Linked DNA regions of Homo sapiens: region 2 is linked to region 1. Evidence: fine-mapped expression QTL. Tissue or cell type: whole blood. Region 1 holds a variant in brackets; the other region holds the start of a gene. All regions are shown on one strand. Distances are between the middles of the regions.

Region 1 (8,175 bases):
TAGGGCTGCTGACACATGACAGGGGCCAGGGAAGAATATGATTGTCCCCGGGATGTCTCATGGCATTCCCCCGTCCAATTTTGATAGGAAATGGACAAGTACAGCAGCCATATCCTGAGAAGGGCGCGGTGACCCTGGGCTCAGTCCCCTCAAAGATGTGGGTTTGGGTCACCCCACCAAGTAAGCCACTAGATCAGTAGCGGGGGCTGAGGGGCATTTAGAATAGGTAGTAGAGGAGGGGGATGGTGAGTATTGGTTGTAACAGTTGGGACTGGAGTTTGATTTCTCTAGGAAAGGAGATCCAATGAAATCCTGCAGGAACTGTTCCCAGGTGGCGTGACTTAGACTAAGTGAATGAATCCCAGCAGCACTGTGGACTGTGGACTGTGGACTGCGGTGGCTGCTGTGGTCTATCTTCCATGCAGCTCCCTTCAGCTCCTTCCATAAACTCCTTTGCCTGCAGCTGCAGGTTTATTCTCTGTAGATGATTCATAGCTGTGTTTCCTTTTCCAGAACTTGCCCTCTGCTGAAGGTGCTGCCTCACCATGAGGTTATACTCCTACCTCAGGGATCACAAGGTGGCTCCCTGAACAGCTCCTTGCTGCCATTTTGTGATGACACCATCTTTAACACCTGGCTTCTGAAGTCTCATGGAGAGGTCTCTATCCAGGGAGTACATTGGATACTTTCGCGGTCTCTGTGGACGGGGAGACAGCACACTGGAGACTAACACCATGTTGGCCTGGACATGATGCATGACCCTTACGCCCATGTTCCATTGGTGAGACCCAGTCGTGTGGATCGCACTAGCTGCATGGGCTGGGTTGTGGGTGTGGGTGGTGAAAATTGTAGACTGGGCATCTGCTCCCCAGAAGCAACTCAACATGGTGTTGGGGGAGCATGAATCTTTGGTGGTCAGTAGTTTTTTCTACCACACCATCCTATGCAAAGCTGTGAAGTAACTGAAGTTTGTCTTGACTTCTCTATCCAACCCATCTCCCCGCAGCCTTCCAATTCCCAGGCTCCTGACCTCTTTTTTTTTTTGAAGACGTGCTCTCAGAGAGCTGTTAAATAACTAACCAAGGAATTAGCTGGTAACCAGACAAGCAACGTAATACCTAGCCCTTCCTAGGCATTTGGTTTCTCTCCCTTCCCAATAGAAGCCCTTCCAAAGCTCCATGCCTTCACTAATGCAGTGACCTCTGTCTGGAGCACTGTTCTTTTCTGGCTGTGAAAGGGCGATTCTTCTTACCCTTTAAGATCCAGCTCACATTATTATTATTACGATTATTATTTTGAGACAGAGTCTTGCTCTGTTGCCCAGGCTGGGGTGCAGTAGTGTGATCATAGCTCACTGTAGCCTCAAATTCCTGGACTCAAGCGATCTTCCCGCCTCAACCTCCCAAGTAGCTGGGACCACACAGGTGCATGCCACCACACCCAGCTAATGTTTTAGTTTTTGTAGAGATGGGGTCTCACTATGTTGCTCAGGCTGGTCTCAAACTCCTGACCTCAAAGTATCCTCCTGCCTTGGCCTCCCAAAGTGCTGGGATTACTGGGATTACCATGCCCAGCCCCAGCTCAGATTATTAAAAAGTTAAAAACAAAACAAAACAAAACAAAATAAAAAAAACCCTAAACAGGTGTTGGAGAGGATGTGGAGAAAAGGGAAACTTTATACACTGTTGGTGGGAATGTAAATTAGTACAACCTGGATGAAAAACATTACGGAGATTTCTTAAAGAACTAAAGATAGAACCACCGTTCAACTCAGCAATCCTACTACTGGGTTTCTATCTAAAGGAAAAGAAATCAGTATATCAAAAAGATACCTGCATGCGTATGTTTATCGCAGCAATATTCATGATAGCAAATCATGATAGCAAATCAGCCTGTGGAATCAACCTGAGTGTCCATCGATGGATGACTAGATAAAGGAAATGTGGCATATATACACAATGGAATAGTATTCAGCTATAAAAAAGAATGAATTCAGGTCTTTTGCAGCAAAATGGGTGGGATTGGAGAACACTACATAAAACAACTCAGACACAGAAAGACAAATACCTCATGTTTTCACTTATATGTGGGAGTTAAACAATGGGTCCATATGGAAGCAGGGTGGGGAGTGATGGAACAGTGAGGTCGGGGAGTGAGAAGGGTGGAATAATAATAATAATAAAGACTGGATCAGAATTCAACCCCTCAGTATTAATGACCCTTTGTACACCTTTGAGTTATAGCATTTATCACACTGTTGTATAAACAACTGTTGACTGGAAGCCTGTTTTTCCAGGGGCAAACATAGTGCTTAATTCACAAGGAGGTAAATGCCCACAAGAGCAGTTCCATGGGGTCGGGGATTCTTTTTTCACTCTTCTATCCCTGGGGCCTAGGACAGTGCTTGGACTTGCTCATTATTCGTTAAGTGAACAATCTGTTTCTGCCCCAGCACAGTGCCTGGCATGCAGTAGGCACTCAGTTATTGAAGGACAGCATTTGCAAGGTCAGAAGTGTTTGCTAATCCTTGCTAGCAGTGGAGTTTCAGATACTTTACTTGAAGGATCGTTTTTTTCTTTAAAGATAATTTTGATTCTGGAAAGTCCCTCTAGGTCTTGCTCAAATTATTCTACCTGGATGCACACGTATGTGACACACACACACACTCTCCTTTATTCTCCAGCCCTCCTAAATCCTTTTGAAGACAGAGGCCCAAGGAAATGAGTTCTTGTAAAACCATTTCCTTATTTCTCAGCCCGGTGAAGATAAACCCTGTTGGGTTGAGCTGCCAGATTCTGTGCCCCATCACTCCCACCCTGGCCCGGGGCCCCCACCCCCAGGGCTGGCTCATCCTCAGGCCAAGCTGTTCCCACAAAGACACCGAGCCTGAGACTTAAATTGGATTTGCCTGTGGCTTTGCGCTCTTCATGTCCTCCCGCCTTCGTTTTTGATTTATCGTTTTAATCAGTCCTAGTCAATCATTCCCTCTCTGTCTTGCTCACCATAAACACAACCCCTTGCCAAAAAAATTATGAATGTATTAAATGATTTTATTACAGTAAACTGCAGATTGTACCATTGTAAACACAGGTGCCGTTCCAACCCCACACCCTCCAACTCTGTCCAGACCTGCAGGGGTGCCTTGGAGGGAGGGAGGCCCTGGGGCCTGAGAAAGGGACCATCTCTGGGAGTCTGAGAAGCAGGAGGTCATTTGGTTCAACGCTTCACCACAGATGGAAGAAACTGGGGTTCCGGTTGGTGAAGCCACTGGTCTCAGGTCACATAGACACTTTATTGCAGAACCAGGGTCAGATTTGGGGTCATCTGATATTTAAGACTCCTTCCCTGACACCCTTCTGTTATCCTCTGTCTTTCTCCTCTTCATTTTAGGCACATTTCACTCTAGGACAAATGCCAGTGGAGGGAGTGGGAGAATTTGAAAACTGTAATTGGCCCGAGGCTGTATACACACCGTGGGCCTTAATCTTTTTGTCC[C/G]GCAGGTGGGGTAAATGTCTTCCTGCCTCGCATCCTGGGACGGGGTGGTGGGGACTTCCCCTTCTCTAGGCTGACAGCCTCAGGCGTTGTTTTGGGGACAGGAATGGGGAAGTCCCTGGGAAGCAGGAAGGCTTTTCCTGGGATCAGGCCTTGTGGAAGCTGCACAGACCAGAGCCTGCTGCTCGGTGAGGAGGGGCGCTTTATTCTGGGATGGCTTGGCAGCTCTTGAAGGCTTGGGAACCTGTTTCCAGAGTGGCTAGCCCAGTCGCTGATGCAGCCATGGAGTCTGGTTTCTTTTGGTGCAAGAAATGCTTTGAGGGTAATTTCACTAGTGGAGCTAATGTAAAAATTTTCTGTTATTGACCATGAGAAATATTTTCTAAACAAGTGATTGATCACGTGAAGAGAGACTCAGAGAAGTGGACTCCTAAGATAGAACTATTTGGGATAACCTATGGATGATGTCTCTTCCCCAGTGGGAATTTTCTTGGCCGAAGTTATCCAGCCCTCTGGGAATCAGTACATGAGTGACACGTGTGCACACATATGCATATGTAATACATGGTTAATATGTATACATGTCTAGTCTTCACATCTGTTTTTGCTGGTTCCTGTTTGTTTCTTGGTTTTGACACATCTGGGCCTCCATAGTAAACAGTTCCAATATTTACCAAGCAGCTCCAAAGGTTACATTTGTTTCCCAAAGTTTTTATTCCTCCTTCTTTTGGGTAAGTTTCAGCTCAGAAGAGAAGCTGTTTTTTTGCTGAGCCTGAGCTGCATGAGCGAGGCAGGAACACAGACCCATCTGTTGGAGATTGGAACATAAATAGCCCCTTTTAAAAATAAATCTCCGCTTTTAACTCCGTAGATAAAAATATCTGAATAAAGGACAATTCTTAATCTCTACCTTCTCCCCTGCTTGACTCAAACGTTTCTAAGTGGAGATTTTTTCCCCCTTCTCCTTTTACAGGTTTCATTTTGGCTTTGATTCTAGCGAGTTTACTGACAGATTACTTCATTTTAACTATATGGCTTTTCTGTCTAGTGGGAGGCATATTTCTAAGTATCATATTTATCAAAAGAGCTCTGCAAAACAAGGGCCAGAATTACTCTTTTGATGGTTCCCCCTCTAACTACAACCACAATAAATTTTGTGAGAAAGAATGTTCAACTGGGGACCTTTTATGTTAAAGCCGAGAGCCTGGGTTCAGACATTGTCACTTTCAAACCTCCACCACTTGGGTTGTTTTTTCCCCCTCTTCTCCCCTCCCCGGGCAGAAATCTCACATCTGGTCTCACTTGTGAGGCTGGTCCTTCCCTCCCAGGGGCGCCATATTTTTCCCTCTATAACTTTAAATCAGAGGAGCATTTCAGTAAATCACAGGGAACACTTATTTATTGGACATAGTTTTGGGTCTCTTAAAGCATGGAAAATAAGTTTAATGGAGCGTTCGGAGCATTTCTCCAATCTTTTGAGGGATTACTTGGAGAATTTGTCAACTGCGCCAAGCCCAGCAGCAAGATCCAGAGAGACGGGAAGGAAATGATGGGAGAATCTTCTCGGAGGACCCAGGTGGATCCTAAATCACCCCCAGAAAGATGAATATGAGAGGACCAGTTGCCAGCAAGATTGATAGGCAGCATCGCCATTTATTTAAGAAACTATCATTTCAGCGGGAGGATGACTTTAATCTGAATTATATTTTGCTTTTGTCGTCTACTCTTGCCAAGTGATTTATAGAACACCGTAGCATGCTTCTTAACCTCAAACAATGGTGGAGGGAGGTGAAAAGGGGGGCTGGAGGAAGGAAAGAAAAGAGGGAAGGGAGCCTCTCTAGGGGACTGAAAACCTTGAGGAGAATGTAAGAGCAGGGCAGAGAGAAATTAATGGTGGTGGCCTGGTTGCGTGGGCAAACTTTATTTGCGATGCCCTTCGGTGGGAAATGAGGGTGGATGGGCTGGTCTTTCTTCCTCAAGGGAAGTAAATGAGAAGAAGCGCCTCGGCCTTTAGGAACCCGAGGGCTTCGTGCTCAGGGTGGCAGGGACGCTTCTTTAGAGGAGGAAGATGGAAGGTCAGGCTGCTGACGTAACTCCCAGGAGGACGTGCTTCTCATTCAGGCTGGAGCTGCTAGAAGAACAAAGGGCTGTTAATGAACGCAGACAGGCTTTGTTTTTGGAAGCAGAGGAACGATGACATTACTATGGTCATTGTGAGTTTTAGCTGCAACAGCTGCCACACCTGGTCCCTGAAACGATGGGTCTGAAGGGTCTGACTTGTCCTCATCTCAGTCTTGGTTAAGAAGGAAGAGGGCAGACGTTCTTGTTTTTAGGCTAAAATGGGTAAAGTGAGGTACAAGGTAAAAAAAAGCAACAGCTGATGGAGATGTTCAAGCCACAGGAGTGTGCAGTAGGAGGCCAGGGACACAGCGGGGTCCTCTTTCTGGCTTTCGTGCCCTCAGGGTCCCCGTGCGCTGGAGGAATTTGGCCCCAGATGTCCATTCACTGTGTCTCTGCTGTCCTGCAGAAAGGGGTTCCTCTCTGATGTCCTAGTCTGCCAATGTGAGCTCCTACTGACCCCAAAGCAGCCTCCTCCTCCCTGGCCCTTTCACTCTTTGCTCTTCCAGCTTGGACAAACCAGTCCTTGCCTGGGGCGTCCTGGAGAGCCAGGGAGGAGGGCCTGGGGTTGGGGAGCTCACAGAAACATGGAGGTGGTGGCTGCAGGAATGAGAAAAGGGTGGACTGTGGGTGTGCGGCCGGATGACCTGAATGTGTTGGGCTAGGTGAACCCCGTGGCAGTGCTACTCAATCCAGACTCACAGAATAGTGCGCAGTGGGACCTCCGTGTGCCCCCAGCCTCCGGGGCTGTCAATTTAGATGGGTTGGTAGGTGTGGCTGTGGAGGAAATGGTCTGGAGCTTACAGAATTACAGGACCAGGGTTTCATTGGTCAGCAAGCCCTGAAACCCTGACCATCAACTATCTTCTTTCTGGCTTTGCATGCATGTTCCTCCTGACTGCTGAAGATCCTCCAGGGTCTGGCTTCATCCAAATTTTCAGCCTTGGTTTTTTCCTCTCCTCCCTCTCTCTCGACTCCAGCCCCTCACTGTCCCGCAGGCACACTAGACTTCAGTCTGCCTTCTTCCTTCTGCTTTTGTGGCACCTGTCTTTCTGTCCATCTATTCAGTGCTATATATGCTTCAAGATGGAGACCAAATTTTATGTTCTCCTAGAGTGTGTCTGGACCAATTAGCATTCTCTGACCAGCTTGCAGACCCCACCACACTCTTTTTTTTTTCTTTTGAGACAGGGTTTCCCTCTGTAGCCCACGATGGAGTGCAGTGGCATGATCATGGCTCACTGTAGCCTCGACTTCCTGGGCTCAGGCCATCCTCCAACCCTCAGCCTCCCAAGTAGCTGGGACTACAGGTACACGCTATCACACCTGGCTAATTTTTTAAAAAATATTTTTTTATAGAGACACAGTCTCCTTATGTTTCCCAGGCTGGTCTCAATCTTCTGGGCTCAAGTGATCCTCCTGCCTTGGCCTCCATAGGTGCTGGGATTACAGGTGTGAGCCACCGCGCCAGTTGCCCCACTGTACTCTTCAGCATGAAACGCAACACTGTTTCCTATTGCCCCTCTTGATCCACTCCTCGGTTCCCTGAACTGTCCCATATCCTTACTGCTAAACACGGGGTTTAGATGGCTGATCTCCAAGGTTCTTAGCAGTTGTAATGATATAGGGTTCTCTGCTTTGTCTCCTCATCTGGACTGTAAACTCCTTAAGAGCAGGGAGGGTATCTTTTCCTTGCACCAAATCCCTCAATATTCTAGCCCTGAGTGGGTATTCCACAGAACGTTTGTGGATTGAGTCTATTTGAGTCCTTTTTGCCACTGGAAGTGGAAGGAGTGGGGAGCAGTGGCTTAGATGCTTTGGACGCCTGGTCTCGTAATCTAGCCTGCAGAGACTTTGATATGCAGTTGGTGGATGGGGTAAAAATCACCATGCAACTCTCAGTGTGTTCTGCCCCAGGGAATCTACACTGAGAACTCTACCCAGCACAGGGAGAGGAGAGGACTCACTCACTGGGCAGGCAGCTCCCTGCAACATTCCATTTTGTAGCCTGGTAGAAAAAGCACTCACTTTGGTTCAGACCTTGGTTTGTCCACTTCCTGCCCATGAGACTTGAGCTGGGTCACTTGATCTGAGTCTTGTTTGCTCACTTCTAAAATGGCAATTCCAAAACCAGTATTGCCCCACAGAAGAGTTGTGTGGGAAGAGCAAGATGACATGACATGGAACATGTTCTGTGCATTGTGAAGACAACAGCGGCCGAGGAGGTATGAAGTGCCGTTACAACATCTCAACATGAGAAGTAAAAACGTAAAACACAAAAAGAGAAGACCAATGGCCCCTCTCTCCCCTCTCTCACTATTGGACAAAGAACCATCTGCCTCGCCTTTGGATAATATGCTGTGGAGCCTCCCCTCTCCTCCAGTAAAAAAAAAGAAAAGAAAAGAAAAGAAAAGAAAGTCAAGTGAGAGGGAACATCCTGGTATATTCTGAAAGTTGACTCTGGGAGGAGAGGAAAACATGAGCAAACAAAAGCTGTCATTCACTGGCAAGCTGCTTCCTCTGGGGATTAATCTCTGTGAAGAAAAATTAAAGATCTCAGCATTG
Region 2 (8,175 bases), 130 kb before region 1:
AAAAAGAGGAAAAGGAATAAAAAATGTAAAACTTATATCTAAGAAAAAATAACAGAAAGGAACAGGGGCGGGGATCATGTCGTTATTTGTGGGATTAATATTATTATTTGGGAGAACACAGACTTTTTGCATACCATTGACTCATGTGGGCCGTTAATGCACTTATATTCCCAGCTTGTAAGCTAACATTATAGTAAATAAATACACAGTCCGGTGGGGAAGGGCTGGGTGGGGAATCCCGGCAGGGTCAAGCAGTAGTGGAGGTTGCAGCGGCGACGGCAGGTGGGGAGGGAGGAGGAGGGAGAGGGAGGAGGGTGAGGGGGCTGGGGTGGAGGAAGAGCTGTAGTTACTGGTATCCCAGCGCCGAGGCTGAAGCTAGTCTCTGTCCATACAGCGCGTATGGCGAATAGTAGGGTCCGGCTGTGGGGAGGGACGGCACGGCCAGGCCCCCCGCTGTGGATAAGTGGCTCTTGCCATAGGGGTGGTACCGGCTTAGGCCCAAAGTGTGTGGATTCCGCAAGGACAGCGACCCGGGGCTGCCGGGGGCGGCGGGCGGGGGGAGGTGCAGATGGCAGGAGGCGGCGGCGGCGGCGGCGGCGGCGGCGCTGCCCAGGCCCGAGGCCCCGGGGTAGGCGGCCAGAAGTTTCTCGGCTCCCGGCAGGGCCGTGTGGGTCCGTAGGTGGCTGAGCAGCTCCTCCGAGGTGGCGAAGCGCTTGTCGCACGGCCCACTGGCTGCCACCCAGTTGCAGCTGTGCGGCAGCGGTTCGTTCTGCAGCATGAAGCCGTAGGTGTAGAGCGGGTGGCCGGGGAGCGCGGCCTGGGCGGCGCTGGACGAGAGCGCGGCGGGCTGCAGCGGGTGCCCGGGGTACACCAGCGGGTAGCCCCCCGCCTTCAGGCTGGGCCCGGCAGGGTCGTGCGCGCTGCAGGTGGAGCAGCTGGAGCCGCCGAGGTGCGAGGCGCCGTGGTAACCTCCCAAGCAATAGGGGTCGCGGCATAATCCCTGCAGGAAGGAGGGCGGGGAGGCCCCGGTGAGCGGGCTGGAGCTGGGGGGCTTGCCCGGCGGCAGGCCCAGGCCCCCAGACAGCTGGCCTCCCACGAGGCCGGACTTGCTAGGATCCAGGCCAGGCACGAACTGAGACGGGTAGCCGGCGTAGGCGCCCACGATGGAGCCGTGGTAGCCAATGCTGGAGGGCGGCAGCGGGAACACCGAGTGGCCCGGCTTGTAGGGAGACACCGGCGCCACGTGGCCGGCCCCCACCAGCGCCGAGGGCGGCTCGGACTTGCGCCCGGAGGCCCCGGACTCGGCGCCACCGTGCGCCCCGGGCTCCCCACCGCCGCCGCGGCTCACGGCTGCCGGCTCCGGGCTGGGCTTGGGCTCCTGGTCTTTCTTGTCCAGCTCCCCGCCGCCAACCCCGCCGCCGTTCTTGCAGTCAGAGTGGTGCGGGGAGCCGCCGCGGGAGCCGCCGGGCGACGACGAGGACGAGGATGCGGAGACCGGCGCTCCATGCGGGGGAAAGGGCGGGCAGGCGGCGCTGGGGACCCTGAAGCCCGCCTTGTCTCCCGGGGACGAGGAGGACGAGGAGGAGGTGGAAGACACCGAGGAGGAGCCGCTGTCTTTGCGGGAGTCGCCGCCGCCGGAGCCCTTGGAGTAGGGCTTGAAGCTGGACTTGTCCTCGGCCGGTGAGTCCCCCAGCTGCTTCAGGGCCGCGGCTGCGGAGGCGGCGCCCGGGGCTGAGCGGCCGGGGTCCTTCTCCGCTCCCAGCCCGTTGGCCGCCGCCGCCACCGAGTTGAGTTTGGAGGAGGGCGGCGGGTCCGGCTTGCCGATCTGCGAGCAGGTCTGAGCCAGCAGCGCCAAGGGGCTCTTCTTGGCGTCCAGCTGTGGGAGACAGAAGCAGGGGGAGGGAGAAGGAGTGAGACTCAGAGGCCTGCGGGGCGAGCGGGGGCGCCCGGGGAGCTGGGCGGCGGCGCCACGGGGCGGGGCGGGCCTGGGGAGAGGGTCTGCGAGCGAGGGCCGGGCCGGGCGCGGCAGCTGGCGGAACTGCGCCCACACTGCCGCTGGGTCCCGGGGTGCGCCGCAGGCCCTGCGGAAGGAGTTCACCCAGGACCCCTGCGGGAGAAGGTGACGTCTCTGGAGTCGGGGCTGTGACTCGCCACTTCCCTCTAATGTCCCCCTCCTCCAGGCCCAGGAAAAAACTTATTCCTTTAGTTTGGGGGAACTTCGCTTGGGACGGGTTTCTGGCGATGGCGCCGCGGGGTAGGAGAGGGGAGCGCGGATTCTAAAGGAGGGGCTGCAGTTGGCGCTCTCTCCGTAGCCCCTCCCTCCCGGGGAGGGCACCCAGGGAAGAGGCAGGAAGAAAGATCCGGGATCGGGAGCGCCAGGGCGCCGTGCGCCCTCACCGGATGGGACAGAGGCGAAGTGGGACCCGGGCAGCCAGGGCTTCAAAGAAAACAGCCCGGCGTGGGGGGCGGGGAAGACCCAGCAGAGACCAACTCCTGGCTGGAAACTGGGGATCAGAGGAAAAGTAAAGGACCCAGAGGGGACTCCAGGAGCAAATCCAATCCGAGAGAAAACACGGAGCTCCGAAGGGCGAGCGTGGAAGGAGACCCTTCCACGGGGAAGCCTGGGGAAGCCCTGGTGGGCTCTGATCCCTCGGTTTTCTTCCCCTCCTCACTCAGCCCGCCAGCGTGACCAGACTTGGGTGTCGCACCGAGCCCCGGGGCGCTGGGAGCTGGGTCAGGGTCCCGGTCGCGGTGGGAGGAATGGGGCCGGCGCCCGGGGGCAGCGGCCGGGGACTGACCTCAATGGGGCTGACGGGAGTGGAGGACAGCGGCTGCAGGTACTCCGGGTGCAGGAGGTGACCGGTGTGAGCGCTCAGCATCTTCAGGACCCTGATCGGGAGCCGGTTCGCCTGGCGCAGGGGGTCCGCCGGTGGCAAGAGGGACACCGCTGCCGGCACCGCCGGCCTCTTCCCGCCGCCGCCGCTGCCGCTGCCGCTGCTTTCGGGTGTCCTTGGGTTAGATCCAGCGGGCGAATCGCTCATTTGGAGGAGGCAGCGCCGCTGGGGGGGCGGGGAGGGCGGGGGAGCACCGGGGAGGCGAGCTCCCGGGGCGGGTGGGCTCGCTCCGCAGCGTCGATCGCGGTGCAGCGGGAGCTGCGCCTCCTCGCCGCCTCCCCTCCTCCACCGACGCCTCCGCCGCCGCCGCCACCGCCGCTGGCCCCGGCTAGCAACACAAAAACCTTCGCCTTCCTCGAGCCGCACGTCAAATAGCCGCGATCGGCAGCCACACTTCAAAGGGATCGCCGCGCCCGCCCAATCGCAGCTCTCGCCGGGACCCCGGGGCGGGGAGAGCGGCGGGCTGAGGCCGGCTCCATCGGTGGGCGGGGAGAGCCTTAAAGGGGCCGCGCCGCGCGCCGCCGCTGCCTCGGTCTCGGCCGCTCCCGGGATTCCTCCCCTCCCCCCGACTGGGCCTTCCTCGCCCTGGGGTCCCCCGCCTGGGACGGGACTTCTCCGGGACCCTGAGCTCTGCGCCCCGTCCTCCTTTCCGGCCGCTCTCTCTCCTCTCTCCCTTCTCACCACTGGGTGGGTGGGGGGTGATGCTGGCGGGGGCTGTAACCCCGCCCGCCGTGTGTGTCCGAGGTGGGGTGGGGTGGGGTGGGGTGGGGTGGGAGGGATCGCACGGCGCGGGCTCTGGGACGCTGGAGTTCAAGCCTCTCCCAGAGGCCGCCTGGGGGCAGGCCTCGCCTCGGGAGCCCGGGTCCTTCTCCAGAGCTGCTCCGGCTCTCCTCGGCCCCGCTCTCCTTCCCCTACTTGGCCTCCCCTTGGTGTGTTCACTTGGAAGCGCCCGAGCCTCGGAGGCACCCACTGTTCTCGGGACGCGGCGTAGGCAGCTCCAACTACTTTGAGCCCGTCTTGTCTGAAGCCTGCAAGTTTGTCTCCCTTCTGGAGTGACATGGTCGGCGACCAAGCGCGGGACCCCAGGCTGTGCGCGCTGTGCCTGCGCCCTGCGTTAGAGGCTCGGTGTCTGGTGTGTTACAGGCTTCTTACCGTGTCCTGCTGAGGGGCGTGAAGTTCCTCACTGTACCGCGCCCAGCTGCTACGAGGAGAGACCGAGATCACGGGCGAGGCGGGTGTCCCTGGAGGGGGATCTCTCTCTAAGCGCTGCTCGGCAACACAACCCCTCCGCCCCCCCATCCTTCTCACTCCGGGGGAAAAAGCACTTGCTTTCCCCAGGCAAATTTCGGGATAAAAACTTTTAATTAAAAATAACAATACCCTTCCCGACTCCCTGCGCCTTTCTGATACAGTGTGCATTGCTAGCTTCGCCCTGGGCAGAGATTTTACGTAGTCATAGTCCTGACATCCAAGTTCCGGATCCGCCGCTTTTCCGGAGGCGAAGTTGGTCCTTTGGGTGCCGAACTCTGGGGAGCCCACTTCTCCGTGCGCTCGGCGGCCAGTGGAGGCGCGCTGGTGTCACTGCCTGGCTCCCAGCACCACTTTTCCAGTCCCGATCCATCACTCCGGTTGTCAGGGCTGTCACTCGGGGCGTATTGCTCTAGGATGGCAGGTTCCCGACTCTGCCGCGCTGACCGACGCCTTGAGATGACCTGAGAACCCAAGATGGGGAGAGGTGATTTCAAAGGAGCTCTTCAAACAGAAAGAAATAGCTATCACGAATCTGTATCTTGCCCAGTAGTAGAAGACAGCAGACCCCACTTCCAGGCAGTATCAGTCATACCCAAAACTAAGTGCACTCCCTGGATCCATACTGTATTTTGGGCAGCACTTATAGAATGCTTAGAAATTACACAAGCTGTAATTACATGTTCCCCAATTTTAATCTTGGTAAAATCATGTTACGCCGAATGGAAAGGGGTACCCTGACTGTGAGATGGATCCCACATTGCAGCAAGAGGGGTGCGGGAATGAAAAGGGAGGGAGTGATCTCATTTATTTCATCGTGGCAGGCTTCTCATGCCGACTTCTGTGCGGGCAGCCATTGCCATCACTGCAAACACCACCTGTAAAAGTCCACTGCAGGGCTGTGTCCACCCACAAGCCATTTTGCCTTCGGGAGACTGCTGTGTAGAGCGGGAAGGGCAGAAGGAAGCCAGGGTGCAGAGAGGCTGGCCTTTGCAGGAACGCAGAGGAGGAGGAGCTGGGCAGAGGGGAGACCTAGGAGGCTATGAAAGATGAAAGTCTCCCTGATTATTGTAACCAGCCCAGCTGTGAGAGGGAGCCAAGGGATCCTTCTAGGGCCTGAGCAGATGTGTGTTAGAAATGATTAATGGGAAATAAGTCAGGAGGAAAAGGGGAGGGGAGAGGGAAGAGGTATTTAGGAATTTGGAAAACAGAGCAGGAGGCAGCTGAAAGGAGAGAGGGGAGAAGAGAGAGGACAATAGAATATTCACTCTCTGTTTGGAGAGGAAAAGAGAAGGAAAAAGGTAGTGAATGAAGGAAAGGAAGGGAGAGAAGAGGAGGTAAGGACAGACTGGCAGGATGTGATGGGGGATTTGCCTAGGTAATACTATACTGTCCTGTTAAAAACACCTCACTCCCTGAGCTCCCAGTGGTAATTACTGACGGGCACACAGATTGGCCTGCTCCCACCTCCTGGGAAGTGGTAGGACACACCTCTGAAAGCATGCAAGGCGGGAGGGACACACTTTGAGCTGCTGGTCAGGGCAGCAGGGTTTCTTTGGCTGGATCCATCCAAACGTCTTAGGAGGGAAAATGAAAAACCATGCATAGCCAGGCCAGAGGCCTAATTAAAACACTGCTAGATGATTATTACAATTGGGATTCACCATTCACTTAGCTAAAATGCTAACCTATACAGAGCACTAAATGGGGCCCTCGGGGCCTGAAGGCAAGTGTAGTTTTCAGAGGAATGGCTTGTCACCTGGGAGGGAATGTGGCTCTGTATTCAGATGGGCTGTGTTTATGGAGGGCGATGTGGTTGGAAGGCCCGAGTAAGACATCCCTGTTCAGGACATATGACACAGGTTCTCCCTCTGCAAAAAAGTGGCAGATGCGTGGCTCAGGGGCCTTCCACTGTCCAGGTCCTCCTCAGATGGCCCTGGGAATGAGCGGCCACCATTAAAATGGGACAGGGGAGAGGGCTGCCTGAGAGTGCCCCCATGACACTGTGGTGAAGAATGACAGTTCGGTATGTCAGGCGCTTAATAAACATCAGGTGTTGCTATCATTCTCAGTTCAAGCTGAAGAGAGTCAGGCCCAGAACCAGGCTGCTGTGGGGACCCCGGGCAAGTGAACCTCCCTAAGCTTTGGTTTCCTCCAGGGTAAAATGGAAGCGTGGCCACTTCAGAGTTGGGAGACCAGAAGCAGACAATGCATGTCACCTGTTTCATGCTTGGCACAAAGAAAGTTGAAGGTAAATGATGGCTGTAACCGATTGCATCATTTGTGTCTGAGGAGCAATTGCTCAGGGGAGCAGCCACATCAGCACCAGATTTAGCCCTGGGAACCCAAGCAGAAGAGCCCAGGTTGTCTCTGAATTCTACAGAAATGAAAGTAACCCTTCCCCAGCCTCCAGTTCAATGTGTCTTTTTTTTTTTTTGAGACGGAGTCTTGCTGTCTTGCCCAGGCTGGAGTGCAGTGGCATGATCTCGGCTCACTGCAACCTCTGCCTCTCGGGTTCAAGCGATTCTCCTGCCTCAGCCTCCCGAGTAGCTGGGATTACAGGCGTGTGCTATGATGCCTAGCTAATTTTTGTATTTTTAGTAGAGATGGGGTTTCTCCATGTTGGCCAGGCTGGTCTTGAACTCCTGACCTCAAGTGATCTGCCGGCCTCAGCCTCCGAAAGTGCTGGAATTACAGGCATGAGCCACCGTGCCCAGCCCGCAATGTGTCTTAAAAAAAAAAAAAAATAGCCCATCCCTCCCTAGAAGCCATCAAGAAAATCCTTTAAGAAACTGTGAATATGTATAGATTATTTTTTCACTACTTCAATTTACATAAAATTCACCACCCAGGAAAAAATGCTCGAGTCAGGTTAAGACCTAGAGGGGGTAGATTTGTTGTGTGGGGTTAATGTGTAGTTTTCAGTCCTTGCCGAGGCAGAATTGCCTGAATGATCGCCTCTCTCTCCTCTCTCTGCATAACACTCAAACCCTAATGGCAACAACATGAAATAATATCTCACTGGGTAACTATTTACATTTTTTTTTTTTTTACAAGCTGTAAGAACTCTGAAAAGTCTGCCTCATAGAGAACTTGGTTTTCCTCCCTGGCGCTTAATATCTTTCAGCGGCTGGCAATTACTGCTTTGGCCGGGAGCCCTGATTTAGCACACTGCACTCAGGGCACTTGAAGGCGCTTCCTCTGTCTGCCCCATCCCCCGGCTTCAGACACAGCCTGGGGCACGAGAGGGGCACCAGGGAACAGTGGGAGCAAGCAGGCTAAGACCAGGACAGCCAGCCCTGCAGGAAGCCCGCCCCACCGATGACTCAAGAGGCTCCCTCTTCTACATTCTCACAGTTGGTATTATGTTCTATTATTACACCTATCACATGGCATCTGCCACTATTTGCTTCCTTGTCTGATCTCCCACTGGACTGTGAATGCTTCTTGTTTTCCTCATCCTCTTTGTGTACTTATTGCCTAACAGAGCGGTTCACCATCACCACAGTAGCCAACGTTGAGTGCCAAACGCTGTTCTAAGCACTTTGCGTGCATTCTCTCATTTAATCCTTGCAGAAACCTTAGGAGATGGGTCCTATGGTTACTTCCATTTCACAGGCACAGAAAGGTTAAGTAACTTGCCCAAGGCCCAAGCTGGTAGGAGGTGAGCCTGGAGTGTCAAATCCAGGTCCAGGCAGTCTCAGTGCAGTTAGTACCCAGTGAATGTTTCTGATGAACGAAGAATTTTACAAAAATAGGGCTATTTATTTATATCACACCTCACTGTATTCCCAAAAGGTTTAACACGGATGATTGTATTTTTCAAAATGTTGATTGTATAAACATGTTAAAGTACCTTTTCCCAAATGCATTGTTTTTTTGAGACAGAGTCTTGCTCTGTTGCCCAGGCTGGAGTGCAGTGACGTGATCTTGGCTCACTGCAACCTCCGCCTCCTGGGTGCAAGCGATTCTCCTCCAGTCTCAGCCTCCCAAGTAGCTGGGATTACAGGCGCCCACCATCATGCCCAGCTAA

Evidence for each region. PIP is the estimated chance that this variant, and not a neighbour inherited with it, causes the effect.
Region 2: it holds the start of ZNF703, and the variant in region 1 is fine-mapped to the expression of ZNF703 in whole blood (TOPMed, PIP 0.98).

What each region holds. Positions count from the first base shown.
Region 1 is chr8:37,562,332-37,570,506 of GRCh38, reverse strand. All of the region lies in intron 1 of LINC01605 (long intergenic non-protein coding RNA 1605), which reads left to right. LOC105379379 (a long non-coding RNA gene) reads right to left here. Exons shown (of 3, transcript NR_188159.1): 3 at 5,114-5,623. Among named protein-coding and RNA genes, the nearest start is that of LINC01605, 33 kb to the left of the region's middle. The variant C/G (reference allele first, on the strand shown) is at 3,496.
Region 2 is chr8:37,690,846-37,699,020 of GRCh38, reverse strand. It overlaps ZNF703 (zinc finger protein 703), which reads right to left and starts at 3,239. Exons shown (of 2, transcript NM_025069.3): 1 at 2,799-3,239; 2 at 1-1,876. The coding sequence starts at 3,041. The coding sequence ends at 347. LOC124901932 (a long non-coding RNA gene) reads right to left here and starts at 5,091. Exons shown (of 2, transcript XR_007060887.1): 1 at 5,021-5,091; 2 at 4,238-4,606. LOC124901933 (a long non-coding RNA gene) reads left to right here and starts at 3,340. Exons shown (of 2, transcript XR_007060888.1): 1 at 3,340-3,581; 2 at 4,038-4,276. RefSeq lists enhancers at 2,308-2,850, 2,851-3,394 and silencers at 3,129-3,228, 3,279-3,628, 4,416-4,600.